Linked DNA regions of Homo sapiens: region 1 is linked to region 2. Evidence: fine-mapped expression QTL. A gene starts in region 2. The other region holds a variant in brackets. All regions are shown on one strand. Distances are between the middles of the regions. Region 1 overlaps MAMDC2 (MAM domain containing 2). Region 2 holds the start of SMC5 (structural maintenance of chromosomes 5).

Region 1 (5,383 bases), 35 kb before region 2:
GTGTGTATATCACATTGTACCCCATAAAGGTATAAAATTGTGATTTATCAATTAAAAATAATATTAAGAAGAGGAAGGAAAATAAGAGGAAGAAGAAGTCAAGTTGATCAAGTGGTGAGGTCAAAGAAGTATTGTGATAATCATGAAAATCCTTAGAAGGTGTGGTAAAGAGTTTGAAATTTGTTCCAAAAGCAGTAAGAAGCCATCATACAGCTTTAAGGTAATATTATCTGATTTTGAAATGATCACTCCAGCTACTGCGTGTAAAGTATACTGCAATGGGACAAGGAGACTTTGGGGGCTGCTGCAGTAGCCCTGGCAAGAGGAGTGATGGCTTAGGCTATGCAGCAGAGGTGAGGAGATGTCATCAGAAGCCCACGAGACTTCTTATGTATAGAATGTGGAGTCTGAGGGAAAGGGAGACACCAAGATGACTCCAAAGCTTTTGGCATGAGCAATTGCTAAAATGAATTGAGATATCATTTATTGAGATGAGGAAGAGTTGAGACAGAGCAGACCTGGAGTGAGGGCAGTGTGTGCAGGAAGAAAATTAATAGACTTCTGGGGGGACATGTTAAGTTTTCTATGTCTATTAGAAATCCAAATGGTTGTAAGTAAATAATAGGATATGAGATGAGTTCAGGGAAGAGAACACAGTTAGGGAAGTAAATGTGTACAGCTTGAATGGGGGTGGGCAGGTAGAGATGGTATTTAGAGTGTGATAGTACTGCTGCCATTTGAGATTGATCCTATGGGGAAAATATGTGGGTGGCCTCCTAAAGGCATTCCACTCATTAGATCATCCCTGTGGGAAAAAGAAATGCATCAAACGGCAAATGTTTAATCATGCTCCTTCCTAAGGGATTTATTAGTGCTAAGCAGAAACTGACTCACTATTGATCAAAAGCACAAAATCATTCTATTTCCTTTGGATTCCCTGATTACCCCTCCTCCCCAGCTTTCATGACTTTTCCTCCTTGGTTTCTTAGATTTTTATGCCATTGAAGTAAAGTGTTATACAAATTCCCAGCTCACTGAAATATTTACATCAGTCATATTATTAATTATACTGCCTAACAGTTACTAGGAATTTCTATGCACTGCATACTCAGCTAAGACTCAGGTTGGCAGGGTGCGGTGGCTTACACCTATAATCCCAGCACTTTGGGAGGCTGAAGTAGGGGGATTTCTTGAGCCCAGGAGTTTGAGATCAGCCTGGACAGCATGGCAAAACCCTGTCTCCTCTAAAAGTACAAAAATTAGCCAGGTTTGGTGGTGCATGCCTGTAGCCCCAGCTACTAAGGCGCCTAAGGCAAGAGGATCACTTGAGCCCAGGAGGCAGAGGTTGCAGTGAGCTGATATCGCATCACTGCACTCCAGCTTGAGAGCAAGACTCTGTCTCAAAAAAAAAAAAAAAAAAAAAAAAAAAGATTCAGGTCTCCAAATTTTCTTGTTTATGATGCCCATAGTAATTTTTTCTTGGTGCCGCAATACCAGAAGAAACACCTAACAGTTTCATATATTAAGTATTTGGATTCAAACAACTTAAGTATTTATGTTCTAACAACTTAGTAGCCATCTGAAAAAATACTTAAAATAAAAATTAAGATTTTATCTAATTATTAACCAAAATTATGTACAAATAGAATGTATATACCTGTCGGGCACAAACTTCCCAAACCTTGGAATTAGATTGGATACACTACCCTTATTTTATGTTCCACATTGATTTCTACACAATGCTTGCTTTTAATTGTAGCAGCTACCAAAAAACTCAGCTCTATGAAGATATGTTATCAAAAGCAATACAGGACAATCCCATGTTAAAACTTTGAATGACATTGAGCTAGCAGTTCACATGGTGTCTGCTAAGTATTGAATATTGCCATGTTTCCCTTAAAATTTCAAACTATCCACAGCACCCCATGAATGTACTTGGGCACCCTGGGGCACCTCAGCACACACTTTGGGAACCAAGGACATATATGATCTTATTTAATCCTACATTTGTTATGTCTATTATCTAAATAAACAAGTATTTGCTCAGTAGCTATTTGATTTGGATAGATTTGGTTAGTCTTAAAGTGCAAAGATAAGTCAGCTTAATCCTATTGTCAATGTAGAAAAAGAAGAGGTATTACTACATATTTATAATACAAGGGGGAAATCATAGTACTATAAAATGGTGATCACTACTGTATTAAGAAATTTCAGAGGAGAAAGTTGTATAAAATCAAGTGTCTGGCCAAATCATAGACTATTCAGAATATAATTCCTTCAGGTAATTTTATTACTCTTTTCATTACAGACTTGAAGGCCAAAAAAACAGATTTTATTGTTGTTCAGAGAACCAAAATGCTTATTATGTGCACTCAGGTGTCCTTTTATCTAGGTGTGTTAGGACATTTTTTCCCTCTTCTTGCCACTTATTTGGATTCTTATTTAGCACTGTGTATTAATCAGTGTTCTCCAGAGAAACCGAACCAGTAAGAGGAGAAAGAGAGAGACAGACACAGAAGGTGAGAGAGATATGAAAGGGGATGTATTATAGAAATTGGCTCATATAATTATGAAGGCTGAGATGCTATATTCAAGCATCTCATTGTATATAGCAAAGGTTTCCATTGCTATATACAAGCTGGAGAACCAGGAAAGCTGGTACCATAGCTCAGTCCAAATCCCAAGGCCTGAGAACTAGAGAAGCCGATGGTATAACTATTAGTCTGCAGCCAAAGGCCTGAGAACCTAGGGTGCCACTGGTACAATTCCAGAAGTCTGAAGACTGAAGAACCTAGAGTTCTGATGTCCAAGGACAGAAGCAGACGGGTGTCCCAGTTACAGAAGAGAGAGCAAACTTGCTTCTCCTCTGCCTTTTTGTTCTATCTGCATCCTCAACCAATTTGATGGTCCCCACTCACATTGGGTGAGGACAGATCTTCCTTTCTCAGTCCACCAATTCAAACGCCAATCTCTTTCAGAAACACCCTCACATACATACTGAGAAATAATGCTTTACCAGCAATGTGGGTATCCCTTAACCCAGTCAAGTTGACACCTGAAATCCACCATCACGAGTTGGATCCTTAGCATTTTTATTAAGAGTATTTTGCCACCAGTCTGTCACTGAAGCATCTTTGAA[A/T]CATTAATTTCAAGATAACTTTATAAACATATTATTTAATTTATATTCTTTAATTTTAGGGAGGGTTTAAATAAAATTTAAGGTCTTTCTTTTTTATTTAAATTATAAACTACTCCAATGAAGACTCACTTGCTTATAAAATGAATAGAGCAAATGTGTCTTCTGAACAACTTTCATTACCCATGGGCCTCCCTGGACTATTCAGTAATTTGTTAACCATTGTTGGGACAGCCTTAGAGCTGGTTAAGTAATCTATTTTTCCTACAACCACAATATCTGATCAGTTATTTTCTTCTCAGAATCTGAAGTTATAAAACTGATTCTCTCTTCTGCCTGAGCTGTGTCTTTGATGTTATGGTATTTAACATAAGTGAACCATTATCTTTGGTAAACTTCATCATTATGCTTTTCTGTTCACACATGGGTATCATCGGTCATATTAAATTTTTCCACCTCGTAGCAGTATCAAAGGTAGATTTATGGAGTGCTAAAGGAAATTTAAATTTCTGAGCCCCTCACTTTCACAGACCCTGTGTGGGTGCTGGGGGATGCTGGGAGAAGAGTGTTCCAATTGGGAAGAGGAAACCAGGTTACCACCAAGAAGCATTTCTAGGCAAGCATTTCTGGGAAATTGCCTAAAGAGATCTCAGAAGACAGGGACCTGAATCTTCAAGGCTTCAGTAATTTATTGTGTTTCTTTAAATTCCAAATAAATATTCTCTTTAATACCTAGATTTCAATTTGTAATTTGGTATCCTTTTCCTTAAAGGGATCCTCAAGAGCAATCTACGTTTTCATATTTACAAAGCCTGGATCTGCCCTGACCAGCACTGTAATCAGGATGATTCTATTTCTAAATTCAAACATATTATTCTTTCAGATAATTTTTGAAGCCATTCGAGGAGTATCAATAAGAAGTGATATTGCCATTGATGATGTTAAATTTCAGGCAGGACCCTGTGGAGGTAATATTTTTTCCCAATCATATAAGCTTGACTGAAAATGGACTTTGCGATACTGTCTCAAACTACAAGAATACAAATTAAATATTTTTCTATAATAAAAATACTGTTATTGTATATTTGTCTTTCCTGACAGAAATGGAAGATACAACTCAACAATCATCAGGATATTCTGAGGACTTAAATGAAATTGAGTATTAAGAAATGATCTGCATTGGATTTACTAGACGAAAACCATACCTCTCTTCAATCAAAATGAAAACAAAGCAAATGAATACTGGACAGTCTTAACAATTTTATAAGTTATAAAATGACTTTAGAGCACCCTCCTTCATTACTTTTGCAAAAACATACTGACTCAGGGCTCTTTTTTTCTTTTTGCATATGACAACTGTTACTAGAAATACAGGCTACTGGTTTTGCATAGATCATTCATCTTAATTTTGGTACCAGTTAAAAATACAAATGTACTATATTGTAGTCATTTTAAAGTACACAAAGGGCACAATCAAAATGAGATGCACTCATTTAAATCTGCATTCAGTGAATGTATTGGGAGAAAAATAGGTCTTGCAGGTTTCCTTTTGAATTTTAAGTATCATAAATATTTTTAAAGTAAATAATACGGGGTGTCAGTAATATCTGCAGAATGAATGCAGTCTTTCATGCTAATGAGTTAGTCTGGAAAAATAAAGTCTTATTTTCTATGTTTTATTCATAGAAATGGAGTATTAATTTTTAATATTTTCACCATATGTGATAACAAAGGATCTTTCATGAATGTCCAAGGGTAAGTCAGTATTAATTAATGCTGTATTACAAGGCAATGCTACCTTCTTTATTCCCCCTTTGAACTACCTTTGAAGTCACTATGAGCACATGGATAGAAATTTAACTTTTTTTTGTAAAGCAAGCTTAAAATGTTTATGTATACATACCCAGCAACTTTTATAAATGTGTTAAACAATTTTACTGATTTTTATAATAAATATTTTGGTAAGATTTTGAATAATATGAATTCAGGCAGATATACTAAACTGCTTTTATTTACTTGTTTAGAAAATTGTATATATATGTTTGTGTATCCTAACAGCTGCTATGAAATTATAAAATTACCTAATAAAAATAATTTGAAAATCTTTTCACTAGCAATTAACTCATTTCTACATTATTTGTCTTTATCAGAGTATCTTCACTACAACACTGCAGATTCTAATTTGAATCTCTACTCTGCCACAACAAAATGCTTAAGCCTTTTTATTAGTGACATAAGCACTCTATA
Region 2 (5,383 bases):
GCATCCCCCAACCCTCCCTGTATAAGCTTCTCGCTTCCGTATCTTAGTGGGCCTAAACGGAAAGGAATGTACTTATTAAGTCTCACAGTTTTTACTGGGGCCCATTGTATGAGTATGAAGTCGAGACTCTCCCACTCCTGTGCTTGTTTATCTGTGCTTAAAGCTGTCTATCTGTCCAGGTGCAACCTGAGGTTTTCCCAAGGTTGTTTTATTTTTTGCCTGTTGCTGTGACTTTTCAGGTAGGCTGCTGCTGCAGTCTGAATTTTTTCAATGATTTTTCCTTCCCGTCTCTCTCATTTTCATTTGCATTTAAGAAAATTTCCAGTAACTACGACAAGTTCACATGCTTTTTACTTACTCTATTTTCTCTGGAGCGGAGTCCTTGTGTGAGAGGAAGCAGCAGAGACCTGGGAAAGGAGCTTTGGTCTAGGAGTCAGGAATCAGGGATCTACTGCAATAGCTTTCTAAGTGGCCTTCCACTTCCACACTTGGTGCCCTCTAATCCATTTTCCACACAGCAACCAGAATTATTATTTAAAAACTTTAAGGCCAGGCACAGTGGCTCATGCCTGTAGTGCCAGCACTTCGGGACACCGAGGTGGGCGGATCACTTGAGGTCAGGAGTTACAGACCAGCCTGGCCAAAATGGTGAAACCTCGTCTCTACTAAAAATACAAAAATTAGCCAGGTGTGGTGGCATGCACCTGTAATCCCAGCTACTCGGGAGGCTGAGGCAGAAGAACCGCTTGAACGAGGGAGGCAGAGTTTGCAGTGAACTGAGGTGGCACTACTGCACTCCAGCCTGGGCGACTGGGTGAGACTCTGTCTCAAAAAAATCAAATAAAAAAAATCAAATAAAAAAATTAAAAGCTTTAGTCAGAACATGGCCCTCTCCTGCTTAAAACTTTGCAATGGCTTCCCATTGCTTTAAAAATAAAATTCAGGCTTTTCCACGATGGACAAGGTTCTGCTCTGCAACCTTGTTCACTGCTCTGCAGCAACACTGGCCTTCCCACCTCAGAGCTTTTGTCCTTACTGGTATGTTCCAGCAAAATTCTTTTGCCTGGGGTGCTCTTTTCTCAGATCGTCACAGTTTCTTCTCGTCCTTCAGAGTTTATCTTAAACACCACCACCTCTCTAAGAGGCCTTCCGTACCTCCCACCCATCAGGTTCATTTTGTTTTCTTCCTAACACCTGTCACAGTCTGACATTATGCTAATCATTTGTTGTGTCAGCCTTAAGTAGTGAAATTCAGAAAATATCATTAAGTATAGAGTTTATTCTAACGCAAAGCTTGAGGACAGCCACCTGGAAACACCAACTCCAAACAAATAGGGTCAATGTTCCAAAGTGAAGTTAAGGTTTCATTTACACAGGCAGAAACAGAGAAGGTTCAGCAGGAGTACATTTTCAATACAAGAGCAGTGCATAAATTACAGCGATTAGATTAGTTATAGATAGCTACATTCCAAGGAAGATAACTATATTAATTTATGAAGGGGGTAGTGATCTGAGGGGGTCTTACCTCTGTCTCTGTTTGGTCTTCCTGATTATAGGAAAAAACAAGGCAGACATTGCAGCTGTATGCCATGGGACTCAGGCCCCATCGCCACATTCTTCGCAAGGCTCAGAATAATTTAAAGTTCCAACAGCTTTAAGTTTGAATTATTTAATTTCACAGTTGATTCACTTGTTCTTTTCCTGTCTCCCACAATAGAAAATAAGCTCCCAGGGATGCAACCTTGGCAGGCTCCTAAACTGCCACGGCTCCAGTTTCTTGTAGATTAGATATTCACTGTTGGTTAAATGAAAGAAGTTCTAGACAGGCCTCGGTGTGCTGCCTCCTCTTTAACGAGAGGGCTTACTAGATGAATGTGAGCAGACGGAAGCAGAACACCCTCTTAATGAAGGCAGCGCATTCCAGCTCAGGGATTTCTAGAAACCTCGGGGGCGGAAGTTTAACCAGAGAATTAGGAGGCAAGGGGAAGAGTAGCAATGAGGTTAACCTGTGCAGTGTAGTCATTTCACGAGTTTGAGAACGCCTAGCACGATGCCTTAACGGAGCGTCGGGCACAGAGTCATTTGGGAGGATTTCTTTTTCGGATTTTTGAGACAGGAACCTGATTTGAAGCAACAGGGAAGAACACCAAGAGGACGAAGAGCCAACGACGGGCGTGCCCGGGAGCTCTCACCTGGAAGGGGTGGGAGCAAGCAGGGCCTGACGTCCTCCCGCCTTGGCGGCCGTGGACGCCCCAGGTGCCACCCACAGCAGCCTCCCACCACACATGACTGAGGCTCGGGAAGCAATAAAGTGGCTTTCAAAATACTAAACGCAATTGAGATTTTTTCCTGAGTTAAAACAAAAAAAAAAAGGAACTGAATGCCGAAATATACGGAGAAGAAACTCCAGTTGCCACGTCCCCGAACGTCTCCACCCAGTCCTGCCTGCTGTTTCGCCCTCAGTCTGGGCCTCGCACAGCGCGGCGGAGCGCGGGAGGGGCGGGGCGGGCCTGCTGACGTCGCCGGACCTGAACTGCGCAGGCGCGGCGCGAGATCGCGGGAGCGAGCGCGCGGTAACAGTTCGCGGCAGTTCGCGCGGGAGCGGGGCGCCTGGGTGGATGGGCGCTTGGGCGCCTGGGCTGCCGGACGGTGGGAACGGAAGTCGCTGTGGGACGCTGAGGAAGCCAGGATGGCGACTCCGAGCAAGAAGACGTCAACTCCAAGCCCCCAGCCTTCCAAGAGAGCTCTCCCGAGAGACCCTTCGTCGGAGGTCCCGAGCAAGAGGAAGAATTCGGCCCCGCAGCTGCCGCTGTTGCAGTCGTCCGGGCCTTTCGTGGAAGGCTCTATCGTCCGCATCTCGATGGAGAACTTCCTGTAAGTTGCCCGGAGGCCGCGCCGCGGGTGTGGAGGTGTGCTGGCCAGCAGGCCCCGGGGCTCCGGCAGCGCGCGGGCGTGGGCGTGTGGGTGTGTACCTGGCTTGTGGGTCTGGCCTTGAATTCGTGCCGGGGTTCCCTTGAGGATTTTCCTACGTAGGCTGTGGAGATTGACGTGTATGATGTAGGAGATGTGTGCCTTGGGTGATGTGGTTTTTAAATTTAGTCAGCCAAGGTTTTCCAAAGGTGTCATGTAGCAGGTAGTGGTTGTAGGAGGGAGTAGGTCTCTGCCCGCTGGGAGTCGCGATCCATAGCGGCCCTGGTCTGGAATTCACAGAAGTATTGTCCCCGGGAACTTAAGAGGAGGCAACAGTTAATTCGGCGTGATAGTGATGCTGTGGCGGATTCTTAGGGTAGGCATTTGCCAGAGAGGAGTAGATAAGACGGTAAAGGTTGTTCGGGAATGGAGGTTACAGGTACAAAAAAATTAAACACTTACTGGCAATTGTTGGACCTCCCTACAAACCCTTGACCCCACTAAACCCAGTTTTCTTCCCTGGTTCCTCCCTCTCCCCTTCAGACAACTAGTTACCGCTTTAGAATTTAGTAAGTTTTAAATATATCATGTATTTGCCTAGCACCTTCCAGTTCATTTGTTCCAGGTCTTTTTTTTTTTTTTTTTCCTCTTTTTTTTTGAGACGGAGTTGCGCTCCTGTAGCCCACGCTGGATGGAGTGCTGTGCCGCGATCTCGGCCCACTGCAACTTCCGCCTCTCGGTTTCAAGCGATTCTTCTGGGTCAGCCTCCCGAGTAGCTGGGACTACAGGCGCGCGCCACCACGCCCGGCTAGTTTTTGTTTTTGAGACGGAGTGTCATACTGTCGTCCGGGCTGGAAGGTAGTGGCGCAATCTCGGCTCACTGCAACCTCCGCCTCCCAGTTTCAATCAATTCTCCTGCCTCAGCCTCCCGCGTAGCTGGGATTACAGCCAGCCGCCACCACGCCCAGCTATTTTTTTTTGTATTTTAGTAGACTCGCGGTTTCACCGTGTTGACCAGGCTGATCTGGAACTTTTGACCTCAGGTGATCTGCCCGCCTCGGCCTCCCGTAGTGCTGGGATTACAGGCGTGAGCCACCATGTCCGGCCGGAAGTCTTTTTAAAGCTTGCACATAGTGGCATAAGGATAACAGAATTGTAATAACAATACTACCTTTTTTTTTCAAGCACCTATTGTGTGCCAGGTACATAGTGCACTCATTCTTTCTTCATAACAACTCTATCTTGATAATTTCCATTGCTGAAAGAAGCTCAGTAGGTTATTTTGCCCAGTTTTACGCAGCTGTTACATAGTTGCATTGCTATTTGAATCCAGATCAGGAAAGATAAATGTAATCAAATGAGTTAGATACCATAACAACATATATCAGGATCCTTCACAAAGGATGAAGTGGTTAGTTTTGTCTACGAGTATGAGAAAGGGCTTTGTAAAGAAGATATGAAAGTCTTTGGTCTTGCTCTGTTGCCCACGCTGGAGCTCAGTGGCATGATCAGGGCTCCGTGAAGCCTGGACCTCCCCTTCTCAAGTGATCCTCCTACCTCAGCCTTTCAAGTAGCTCGGACTATAGGCGCGTACCATACCTGGCTAATGTTTTAAAATTTTTTTGTAGAGATGGGGTTTCACCATGTTGCCCAGGCTAGTTTCGAACTTCTGGGCTCAAGAAACTCACCTCGGCCTCCCAAAGTGCTGGGATTACAGACATGAGCCACTGCACCCGCCTAAGAAGATAGGAAAGTCTTGCAAGAAGTGAAGAGCATTGAAGACAGAAGGAACTGTCTGAAATAGTTTGGTATATTTAGAAAGCGTCAAGTATTTTAGTAAGGCAAGAATATAGGATGTGAATGAGTATTTGGACAAAGGGTAAGCAACCATTCAGGGGCCTGTATGTTTACTATGCTAAGAAGTTCCGACATCATCCTGTAGGCAGCCACGGTGTGTTTTCAACAGGGAATGACGTGTGTTCTGTGTTATTCTGGAAGCACTGTAGAGGATGATTTAGAAAGGGTGCAAGATTGGAAGCAAAAAGACAATACGAAGGCAAGAGATGATCAGAGTGTGAAGGAATGAGATTTGACAGGATCCAGCTACAGAATAGTTGTGAGGCATGGGGGAAAGGGAGGAATGCAGCATTTTTCCCAAGTGTAAGAGCCTTAGCTAATTGATCAGGTGCTATTCAGAAGAGGGAGCAGTTTGAGGAGAATAATAAATGCCTCTTAGATCCTGTGACTTAAAGTTTCCTTTGTGGCATCTAAGAGAGATGTTCTATAGGCAGAATGTAGGAGTCTGGAGCTTAGAGGAAAATATGAACAGATGAGAGTTTTGGGAGTCATGCATACAGGTGATTGATGAAGTTGCAGAACTGGTTATGATTGCCCAATAGGAATTATGAATTGAAGAACTAGAAGACCATGTACAGAGTCTTGGGAGAATGCCTACATTAAGGGTGAACTGAAG

The links. PIP is the estimated chance that this variant, and not a neighbour inherited with it, causes the effect. A credible set is the group of variants that fine-mapping cannot tell apart.
Region 1: its variant is the best candidate, but not a certain one, in a credible set for the expression of SMC5 in whole blood (INTERVAL, PIP 0.83).

What each region holds. Positions count from the first base shown.
Region 1 is chr9:70,221,731-70,227,113 of GRCh38, forward strand. It overlaps MAMDC2 (MAM domain containing 2), which reads left to right. Exons shown (of 14, transcript NM_153267.5): 13 at 4,020-4,104; 14 at 4,238-5,242. The coding sequence ends at 4,302. All of the region lies in intron 3 of SMC5-DT (SMC5 divergent transcript), which reads right to left. Among named protein-coding and RNA genes, the nearest start is that of SMC5-DT, 34 kb to the right of the region's middle. The variant A/T (reference allele first, on the strand shown) is at 3,140.
Region 2 is chr9:70,256,390-70,261,772 of GRCh38, forward strand. SMC5 (structural maintenance of chromosomes 5) reads left to right here and starts at 2,589. Exons shown (of 25, transcript NM_015110.4): 1 at 2,589-2,874. The coding sequence starts at 2,690. It overlaps SMC5-DT (SMC5 divergent transcript), which reads right to left and starts at 2,485. Exons shown (of 4, transcript NR_039990.1): 1 at 2,007-2,485; 2 at 1,526-1,546. RefSeq lists enhancers at 2,156-2,345, 2,676-2,875 and a silencer at 2,416-2,635.